2 separate regions of the Homo sapiens genome follow, and region 2 is linked to region 1. The links come from fine-mapping of genetic effects on gene expression. A gene starts in region 1. The other region holds a variant in brackets. All regions are shown on one strand. Distances are from middle to middle.

Region 1 (5,344 bases):
TCTCTTCAGCTCATATGATACAGATTAGATTCTGAATTTATTTTTGACAGGGTCTTAGTGTGGGAAACAGAATTCTTGGATGCTCTTCCCAACAAAAAATTGCCCTGCACTATTATATTAGTGTGGGCTTTTTATCCAGAGTCAAAAACACCAGGCCTAGTCTCCCTGAAGAAAGTCTGGATGTCCTGATTAGAAATTAAAAGGGTAGAAGGGGGGGAATAGGATGTGTTGAGTAGAAGAATCTAGATAGATAGTTAGATAAATACATACAAGTATATATGCCATGTTTCCATTTCCAAGCAGTACCCAGTCCTAAGATAATCATGTCTATTTCCTATTTCCAGACTTAGCAACCCCTTCCCACCTTGACCAAAGGGGCAGGGGGATCTTTATTTCCACTTAAAAGGGGGAACATCTCCTTTCTCACCTATTCAGAAACCATCCCATTGAGAGGGTTGGGAAACTCCCACCTCTTACCCAGCAAAGCCCTAAATCCTTTTATTTCCCTTCATCTGATAGTCAAAGCCTCCCCAATATTCAAAAAGGCAAAATCCAGTAGGCCATCAACATAGATCAAGTTGGGATCTACCTTGATTTCAAGGTCTTTCTCTGCTTTAAGGACGTAAGACTGGGAATCTATTCCTGCCAATTAATAATCCGGAGATTGTACTTTTTTGGGTAAGTTATATTACATGTAGCTAGCTTTATTTTTTACTTGTAAATTTATTGTACAAAGCTAGCATTCTTAAGGACCAGACTGCTGAAGTGAGTGAAGACCAGAATGATCTAATCAATAAGAATAGGGATCCTTGTCCACCCTAATCTCATGTAAGGACATCTCAGCTAAGGCACTCTGGAGAGACAGATGCCTCTACTCCCTTCTCTTCCCAGGTTTCATGCCTCCTTCTGGGAATCCTCTTCTCTCACCACTGAGCACTTCTCACACTAAAGGAAGAAACAACAATTCATTTTCAGGAAAGGCTTTTGGTTAGAAATGTGTGGGAGATAGTGAAACTAGTAATACCCACTCTTTCGCAGGGCCCTGTTACCTGGAATACAGGCAAGGTAAGTATGATGAGCCACTAGTGTTAGGGGAGCCATCCTGAATTCTCCCATTTATGGACCTGGGGCCCTTCTTTACCTTTCAACTACTTCCTTATCTGCCCCTTTCCCCAGCTCATTTACCATTAACGCAGCGTCATTTTCTATCAAGAATCACACAGTGCTCCTCCCAACAAAAATCAGTTCAATCTGGTTTTCCATTTCTTCATCCCAGAACTCATTCCAAGGCTGTGCTTCATAGAGCCCAGCAAATTGGATTGGCCAGAGGCAGCCAAGGAGGAGGACTGAGAAGTACATTTGGATTCCAAGCCTTGTTGCCCACTATGCCTCAGTTCTCCCTAACGCCTCTCCAAGTAGCTAGTGTATAAATCAGACCCATCTGCCATAAAAAGGTGTCATCTTATCACCATAGGTGAAGTATTTAAAGAACAATACAACATAAGCATCTATCCATCCCCTACCCCCATCTCTCCCTCTCCCAGAACCCAGAAATAGAAAGCTTCGGTGCTCACTATGGAGAACATTGAGGAGGAACTGGGTTCAGGGCTATGTTTACTGTGTTTCCTCTCTAAACATCCATAGTCTCCTATCTGTTTCCTCTTTCCTGGGGCCATGGATTCATCTCGGAGAGAGGGACATCTTCTCTTGTTCCCTGATTAAGAATCAACAGACTGCGGAGATTTCCCAATGGCAGCAGCTGACTGGGAGATAAACATGGTGCATGGCTTGTCTTTGACCCAATCCTCTTTTTTTTCTAAGGAGCAGGGGAAAAGTTCCTTTCCTCCCCTGGGACTGGAGTATCAGATACCTGAGTTCTTCCTTCCCCCATTTATTCCTCCCCACATGCCCTGGTACTGCAACAATAGGAAAAGATGCCCAAATGTGCTTGGAGATCCTGGAAGACCCTATATAAACAAAAAGCCTCTGATTAAGCCAGTTACCTTGCCTTTGTCAATCAATATTTCTTCACCATCATCACCTCCTTCAGCTTCCAGGTGGGGGCTCCAACCCCCCCTCCAGATTCCACGTGGGTCCCCTCATCATTAATACATAGAGTGAGTTTCCAGGCCCCAAGAGATGAGCAGCTCAGGCATGGGGTAACCCCCACCCCACTTCCTGTGCATGAGGCAGAAACTACCAATCCCAACTGAGATACATATGACCCACAGGTTGGCACAAGTATTCCCATGCAGTAGATCTACAGCTGTGTGCAATCACTCCACATACCTCTGTGACCCACGCTCACTCATGCACACACATGTCATGTGGCTCACATCTGCACAACTCTGCACATGGATATGTGTGAGTCAGCCTGGCACCTCTACTGCCCTCCTGCAGCCCTGCCACACTGCATATACTGTGCTGCCTCTAGGCGCTGCGTGTGTCAGCCTGGGGTCCACAGGCACAGGCACATCGTTACCTTTGCAACTCCTAAGCCCGCTCCAACTGGCCAGCTTGCTCCGCACATGCCTTGCACATGTGGCCTGGCCACGCGTGTCAGGGCCGTGCTTCCTCGCACCTGCCAACATCTGTGCCAAAGAGAATCTACCAGCCCACAGCCCTGCTCCAGTTATCCCCCCTCCTCCTCCCGCTCAGGCTCCCTAAGGTCCCTTCCCCCCATTCCCGGGCCGGGGACTTACAGAGACCGAAGCTTAATCCACATCTTCTTGCTGGGGGCTGACTTCAGCTCCAGGGGTGACGGGCAATCCGACTCCTCCAGCATCTCCGGAGGACTGCGGGGGGACAGCTCCATGCTCAGCCACGGTCTACGGAACAGAAGGAGGAGACAGCACCTCGGCTCAGCTTCAGCCCCAGCCGAGAGACCCTCACCCCCCATCCCAGGCCCTTCCCACCTGCGGCTGGCGTGGACCAGCCAGGCCGGTGTCTCTAGGCTCGGCCCAAGCTGGCAGAGCTGCAGCTCCTGCGGCTCCTCCTCTCCCGCTGCCCAGCCGAGCTTTGGGCTCCCAGTCCAAGCTCTCCGCACCGCCGCTGCTGCTGCCGCTACCGCCGCCGCCGCCGCGCGCTGCCAGAGCCGCCTCCTCGCCTCTCTCCTCCTCCCCCGGCCGGGTTCCCCCCTCCCTCTGCTCTCCCTCCCTTCTCCTCAGCCTGCCCGCCAGTCTCTCACTCCTCACAGCCACTCCTCCCCCTCCCAAAGGAACGATTGGAAGCCGGGGGCACACACAGACAGAAGCGCCCAAGGGCGAGCGCACGCACACAGGCGCCGGGGACGAGTGGCTGCGTGTGCCCTGTACTGGCGGATGTGAGTGCGTGTTTACAGAGTGCAGCGGAGGCGGCGGGCTGGACTTCGGTGTGGGTGGTTGTGTGGGTTCTCTCCGTGTGTTTTGAGTTTCTGTGTATGTGGTTGTGGTTCCATGTATCCACGTGTGCCTAGCTGCCTGCGTGTCCCATGTCTGAGTGCGGGGTAGGGGATGAGCACACATCTTTCCCTGCTAGATCTGGACTCGGAACCCAGTCGGACCAGACCCCACCTGTGCTCCTGTCTTGGAAAAGTTCAGGGTGTGCCCTGAGCTGTGATGGCATCCCACACTTGGCCTCGGGTCCCTCAGCTTGATCTTCCCCACCTGTCTCCAAGACTGTGGCCTTCTCCATGGTACTTCTGCCTGCCCGCCTAGCAGATAGGAATTTCTTCCAAGTTCAAAGCTCTCCAGAGCAGGCATCTTTTTTTTTTTTTTTTTTTTTTTTTTTTTTTTTGAGAAGGAGTCTGTGTCGCCCAGGCTGCAGTGCAGTGGCGCGATCTCGGCTCACTGCAACCTCTGCCTCCCCAGTTCCAGCGATTCTCCTGCCTCAGCCTCCTGGAGTAGCTGGGACTACAGGCGCGGGCCACCACGCCGGCTAATTTTTGTATTTTTTAGTAGAGATGGGGTTTCACTATATTGGCCAGGCTGGTCTCCAACTCCTGACCTCGTGATCCGCCCACGTCGGCCTCCCAAAGTGGTGGGATTACAGGTGTGAGCCACCGCACCCAGCTTAACATCTTCTTCTTTGACTAGGTAATAACTCTACACAGCCAGGAAAGCATTCCTGATATCAAAACCCCTCCTGAAGCACTTCCAGCTCATTTTTTCTGTTCTGTCTTCAGAGAAAGAAATCTAGGAGCTAAAGGCCCAGCACAAAACAGCCTAGCTGGTTAATAAACATTTGTGGAAGGAGTGAACTGGAATTTGAACTCAAGACCTTGTAAAAGGGCAAAGCCTCCTCCATCCAACCGAGTCCTACCTAGGACTCTTGCAGGAACCACCTCTCTTGCTCCATATTGTTCTCTCCCTTAATGACCACCTGCTTTGGCATTGGGGAAACTCCTATGTCAACAGAAAGTGGAGATATATTCACTAACTACTGAATCCAAAACAGGCCACTAATCCAGGATCCCAGAATGTGAATTTTAATTTCAAAAAATTCTGGAGGTTGGAAGGAGGAGTGATCAGGAGAAGGTATTTACTCTGTTCTAAATACTGAGTGGAGGCTCCTCCTCTCCCAGTCAGAGAAGGAGAAAAGAAGTGAAATGGAAGGGCGAAGAAGCGGATGAACTGTCACAGCTAAGACTCCTAACATAAAAGAATTGCCAAGTTAGGTCAGCATTTAGATTCAGCAGAAGTATCAGCAGAACCAGCTCCCAGAAAGTACAGAGGCAGAAAGAGATGGCAGAGTCAGAGATGGAGAAAAAAGTGGAAATAATAAGGGACTTCCCACCCTCTGTCCATCTACCTTTAGCACACATCCCTTGGCTTTTCCCCAGACCCAGCCAAGAAATGGCTGCATCTGAGACCCTAGTCACACTCCTACACAGTCCATTTCTGAAAATTTGGGAGCAATCTCCTCCTTATCAACTGAAAATGAAATGGGCTGGAAACTACAAAAGAATTGCAAATTAGGATGGTGCTAAAGAGCTCTAATTAGTAAATTAGGATTAGAGCTAAGGAGTTTCCAAATTTAGGCAGGTCTTTAAACTAGAATAGGTGGGAAAGAGGCAAGACATACATCCAGAGGGCTCTCTCAACATTTCTTGTTAACACAGTGTCACATCCTGCTCTCCCAAGACCCCCTGCTCCTGATTCATTTTAAGGCTAATTCACACACACACACACACACACACACACACACGCACACACACACAAAGTTATTCGTGAAAGAGACATTAGAGTTCATCCACTCTAATTCCCTTCATTTAATAAATGGGAAAACTTCATAGACAACACAGTTTGATGGAAAAAGTAAAAATAAAAATAAATGAGAACTAAACTAACCCAGAAAAATTATAGGG
Region 2 (5,380 bases), 48 kb after region 1:
CCAAATTCCAGTGGAATATAGCTGAAATTCACTTTCAGCCACTCACACAACCAATGTCACTACGCAGGTCTTATTCTCTACAGACAAGAATCAGAAGGGAACGGAAATAACATGTGTTGGTCTATTGCCTTACTATATGCTAAACACCAAGCTAGATGTTGTCCATGCATTATCTCATTTAATTCTCACAGACGCCTCACACAGTAAATCTTATTTCCTCATTTTATAGATAAGGAAACTGGAATTTAAAGAGTTTCTTATCTAAAGTCATACAGTTTGTAAGTGGTAAAGCTGAGATTTGAAACCAAGTCTGTCTAATTCAGGGCCTACTTAACAGTGCATCATACTTCAATGTCCCTATTTCCCCTCCTTTCCTAAACAAGCCGTACCAAACACCTTGGGCTCAGAACTTTATTTACCACTGCAGCAACCAGAAGGTGTTCTAAAATCTCCTTTGCCCTTCAACTTTTCTCAGTAAGAGACTTTTTTTATGTGCTTCCAGCATTCTTCCCACTGCCTCCACCAGCACCTACCCTCTTGCTAACCACTACTCTCAATTCCACAATGAATACTCTCTGACCTGACCCTCGTTCATACATTACAGTCCTTCTTGTCCTCACTTCTCTCTTCACTATGTGATCTACTGAATATCCTGGATTTGCTTCCTAGGGTAGGCACAGAACACATTATTCTTGTATCATCTGAAAAAATACTATAACACCACCACAAGCTTGGGTTGCTCAGAGGGCTAAAATTTGCATTATTTCTTGAATACATAAATAATACATGTTTATTGTAGAAAAAACTAGAAAATACCGACAAGTTTAATTTTAACTAGCTTTTTTAAACTATAATCCCACCGATCAGAAATTCCAATCTTCTTTATATGCATATTTACCTATGTAAATATACATTTTAGGGACATCTTACATCTTACATCTGTCTTAAACTGTCTTACTGCAATTTGCTTTTACATTAAACAACATATGATGAACATTTTCTATACCAATTAATATAAAAAATATATTATTGGCTGGGTGCAGTGACTCATGCCTGTAATCCCAGCACTTTGGGAGGCCGAGGCAGGTGGATCATTTGAGGTCAGGAGTTCGAGGCCAGCTTGGCCAACATGGTGAGATCCCCCATCTCTACTAAAAATACAAAAATTAACGAGGCGTGGTGGCACGTGCCTGTAATCCCAGCTACTCAGGAGGCTGAGGCAGGAGACTCGCTTTAACCCAAAGGCGGAGGCAGCAGTGAGCCGAGATCACGCCACTGTATTCCAGCCTGGGCAACACAGTAAGACTCCGCCTCAAAAAAAAAAAAAAGAAAAGAAAAAATATATATGTGTGTGTATATATATATATGTGTGTATACTTTAACAGCTACAGAATATTCATTTGTGGGCACATACTCTGAACTTTTAACCAAACCTTTATTTATTGGATATATCAATTATCACATTGTAACTATCATAAATAATGCAATGGAGTATATTCTTATACATATGTCTTTGCATTTGTTTCCTTTTTTTATTTCCCCATGAAACAATTCTGTTTCCTTATGACAAATTTCTAAATGTAAAATTACGACATTAATTTTTAAAATTTTAATAATACCTTATCAATTTTTCTTTCAAAAACATCATATTAATTTTTATTTTTTATGTTTATAAAAATAATACATGCTCATTATTTAAAATTCAAATAAAATATCATCCATGTAGTATTGCTCCCAAAAACTATCAACAATAAGACAATTTCAAATTGAAGGATTTCTCAAAAATAACTAGCCCAGACTCTTCAAAAATGTCAGTGTCATACAAGACAAAGGCTGGAAATCATTCTAGATTAAAGATGAAGGAGACATAACTAAATCCAATGTATTATCCTTGAGACAACTGGAGAAATGTGAATATGGGCTGTATATTAGTTTGGGTGGGGTTTTGTTTCTTTTTTTTTTTTTTTGAGACAAAGTCTCACTGTGTCACCCAGGCTGGAGTACAGTGGCCAGTGGCATAATCATGGCTAACTACAGCCTTGACTTCCCAGGTTCAAGTGATCCTCCTGCCTCAGCCTCCTAAGCAGCTGGGACTACAGGCACTCACTACCATGCCCAGCTAATTTTTTTTTTTTTTTTTTTTTTTTTGTGTAGATGGGGTTTCACCATGTTGCCCAGGCTGGTCTCAAACTCCTGGGCTCAAGCGATTCATCCCCGTCAGCCTCCCAAAGTGTTGGGATTACAGGCGTGAGCCACAGCACCCAG[C/T]CATAATGTTATATTTCCTGTGTATGATATATTTCCTGTGTATGTTATATTTCCTGTGTATGATTTCCTGAGTATGATAATTATATTAGGGTTGGGTAAGAAAATATTCTTGCTCTTAGCAAATGTATGCTTAAGTATTTGGGAAAGGAAATGTCATGATGTATGAGGCTAACTCAAATAGTTCATTAAAAAATAGAGAAGGATAAGAAAATGTGGCAAAATACTAACAATTAGGAGATCCAGGAGAAGAGTATAACAATATTCATTGTACTATACTAGAAATTTTACAGTAGGTTTGTATAAAATATTGTGGAAAAATACTTGAAATTTTTAAAGCTCAAATAATGCAAAGATATATAGTTTATACAGGTTGAGCTTCCCTAACCCGAAAATCCAAAATGCTCCAAAATCTGAAACCTGTTGAGCACCAACAAGACACTCAAAGGAAATGCTCATTGAAACATTTCAAATTTCAGACTTTCATATTAGGGATGCTCAACTGCCTAATGCAAATATTCTGAAATCTGCAAACATATGAAATTCAAAACACTCTGGTCTCAAGAATTTTCCATAAGGAATACTCAACCTGTATAGAGAACTCCTAAGTCTCAACACACACAAAAAATCCAATTCAAAAATGGTCAAAGAATGAAACAGACATTTCTTCAAAGAAGATATATAAATGGCCAATAAGCCTATGAAAAATGCTCATTATCACTAATCATTAGCAAAAATTCAAATAAAAACTTAGATGAGATAATACCTCACACCCACTGGGATGGCTACTGTCAAAAAAACGAAATAACAATTGTTGGCGAGGATGTGGAGGAATTATAGCCCTTATGCACCGTTGGTGAGAATGTAAAAGAGTACAGCCACTGTGGAAAACAGTATAGCAGTTCCTCAAAAAGTTAAAAATAGGCCGGCACAGTCCAGCCTTTGGGAGGCCGAGGTGGGTGGATAGCTTGAGCCCAGGAGTTTGAGACCACCCTGGCCAACATGGGGATACCCCATCTCTACAAAAAATATAAAAACTTAGCCAGGTGTGGTGGCATGTGCCTTTAGCCCCAGCTATTCAAGAGGCTGAGGTGGGAGGATCACCTGAGCCTAGGAGGTCGAGGCAGCAGTGAGCTGTGATTGCACCACTACACTCCAGCCTGGGCAACAGAGTGAGACCCTAACTCAAAAAAAAAAAAGTTAATAATAGAATTATCATATGATCCAGCATTTCCACTTTCATGTTTATAATCAAAAGAATTGAAAGTAGGGTTTTGAAGATATATTTGTACACCCACGTTCATAGCAGCATCATTTACAATAGCTAAAACTTGGAAGCAACCTAAGTGTCCATCAACATACGATCGGATAAGCAAAATGTAGTATAATCATACAATGGAATATTATTTAGCTTAAAAAGGAAATTCTACAATATGCTACAACAGGGATGAACCTTAAGGACATTAGGCTGATGAAATAAGCCAGCCACAAAAAGACAAATGCTTTATGATTCTACTTATATAAGGTACTTAGAATAGTCAAAATCACAAAAACAAAGTAGAATTGTGATGGCAAGGGGCTGGAAAGAAAGGGAAATGGGGAATTATTGCATAAAGGGTAGAGAGTTTCAGGTTTACAAGGTGAAAAGATGGTTGCATTATTAATATACTTAGTACCACTGAACTGTATACTTAAAAATGGTTAAGACAGTAAATTTTATGTTATGTGTATTTTACCATAATTTTTAAAATAGAAAAAACATGCATAGCCTACTAAATTGAAGCCAGTCATAATCAGTCCCCAAAGGTAGTTATTTTTAACAGTTTAATGTAAAATAGTCCAGATCTTTCCTAGATATTTACTAAATACATATACATACATACTCTTTTAAAATAGAAATGTGATGTATCATATACTATTTTGAAATTTGCTTTCATTTAACAATACAACTTAGATATCCTTCCATATTAGTACATCTCTCTCATTTTTTCAAGAACTTGTTTTAAGCAAATACATGAACATCTAAAGAAAGAATAGCCTCTGAAAGACCTTGCCTACATTGGAAACGGCTCAAGAGAGCTCACCCGAAATTCCATGACATCCACAAATGACTGGTAGTAGTTGGTGAGGAATCTAATTATCTCGGCTTTTTCACGATGTACTGGTCCTAAATGTTGCTGAGAGAAACACAAAACAAAACAATAAAAAAGTGCAAAATAAGACAATTGATCCAAATAACTCAAGAAGAACAGTGGTTATACCTAAAACATTCTTAAAGAGGGTTGAGGCCGGGCGCAGTGGCTCACACCTGTAATCCCAGCACTTTGGGAGGCCGAGGCAGGCGGATCACCTGAGGTCAGGGGTTCAAGACCAGCCTGGCCAACCTGGTGAAACCCCGTCTCTATTAAAAATACAAAAATTAGCTGGGCGTGGTGGCGGGCGCCTGTAATGCCAGCTACTCGAGAGGCTGAGTCAGAAGAATCACTTGAACCTGGGAAGCAGAGGTTGCAGTGAGCCAAGATTGTGCTACTGCACTCCAGCCTGGGTGACAGAGCAAGACTCCATCTCAAAAAAAAAAAAAAAGAAAAGAAAAGAAAAAGAAAGAGAGTTGAAATATACTGACAGAGGAAGTTAGAAACGCTTCAGTGCTCTGAAGGTCTTTAAACAAAGGAGATTGTCTATCTAGGTAGAATGGTTGCATGTGATCCTGACTAGATACAGAGGGCTAAATGAGAGGAAATTTTAAGCACCCTTTCAGATGAACAGATATACTATTTATATCAAAGTCAAAAGAAACAGAATTCAAAGATGCTACAAAGATGGGTGAAAAATCTAGGGTTAACATTTAATAAGGGAAAAGTAGAGATATCCCATTAGATGCAGAAATCTAAGACAAACAGCAAGGAAACAGTGAGTGGGAAACAGAAACAATAAAATACATGTACCCTGCTGGGTTGATAGAGCTGTCTTGTACAAAAACAATGTTTTCCCATGAATCTTGCAATGGAAAAGGGGTGATGATTCGCTCCAGCTTATGCTGGAAGAATCCCATCTTATCTCAAAATGCTCAAGACTTAAAGCTCTACAACAACCTGAAGCCCTGTGGTTGAGCCTTGGA

Which allele goes with the higher level. Positions count from the first base shown, and alleles are read on the strand shown. Sizes are in standard deviations (SD) of each study's normalised expression.
With allele C in place of T in region 2, the expression in monocytes after R848 of the gene that starts at base 3,087 in region 1 is lower (moderate effect, 0.44 SD a copy in Quach 2016).

The links.
Region 2: its variant is fine-mapped to the expression of PDE1B in monocytes after R848 (Quach 2016, PIP 0.90).

What each region holds. Positions count from the first base shown.
Region 1 is chr12:54,547,344-54,552,687 of GRCh38, reverse strand. It overlaps PDE1B (phosphodiesterase 1B), which reads right to left and starts at 3,087. Exons shown (of 16, transcript NM_000924.4): 1 at 2,916-3,087; 2 at 2,703-2,828. The coding sequence starts at 2,815. NCKAP1L (NCK associated protein 1 like) reads right to left here. Exons shown (of 31, transcript NM_005337.5): 31 at 4,445-5,344. RefSeq lists an enhancer at 1,909-2,537 and a silencer at 3,103-3,162.
Region 2 is chr12:54,499,592-54,504,971 of GRCh38, reverse strand. NCKAP1L (NCK associated protein 1 like) reads right to left here. Exons shown (of 31, transcript NM_005337.5): 3 at 4,347-4,439. Among named protein-coding and RNA genes, the nearest start is that of NCKAP1L, 4.5 kb to the right of the region's middle. The variant C/T (reference allele first, on the strand shown) is at 2,266.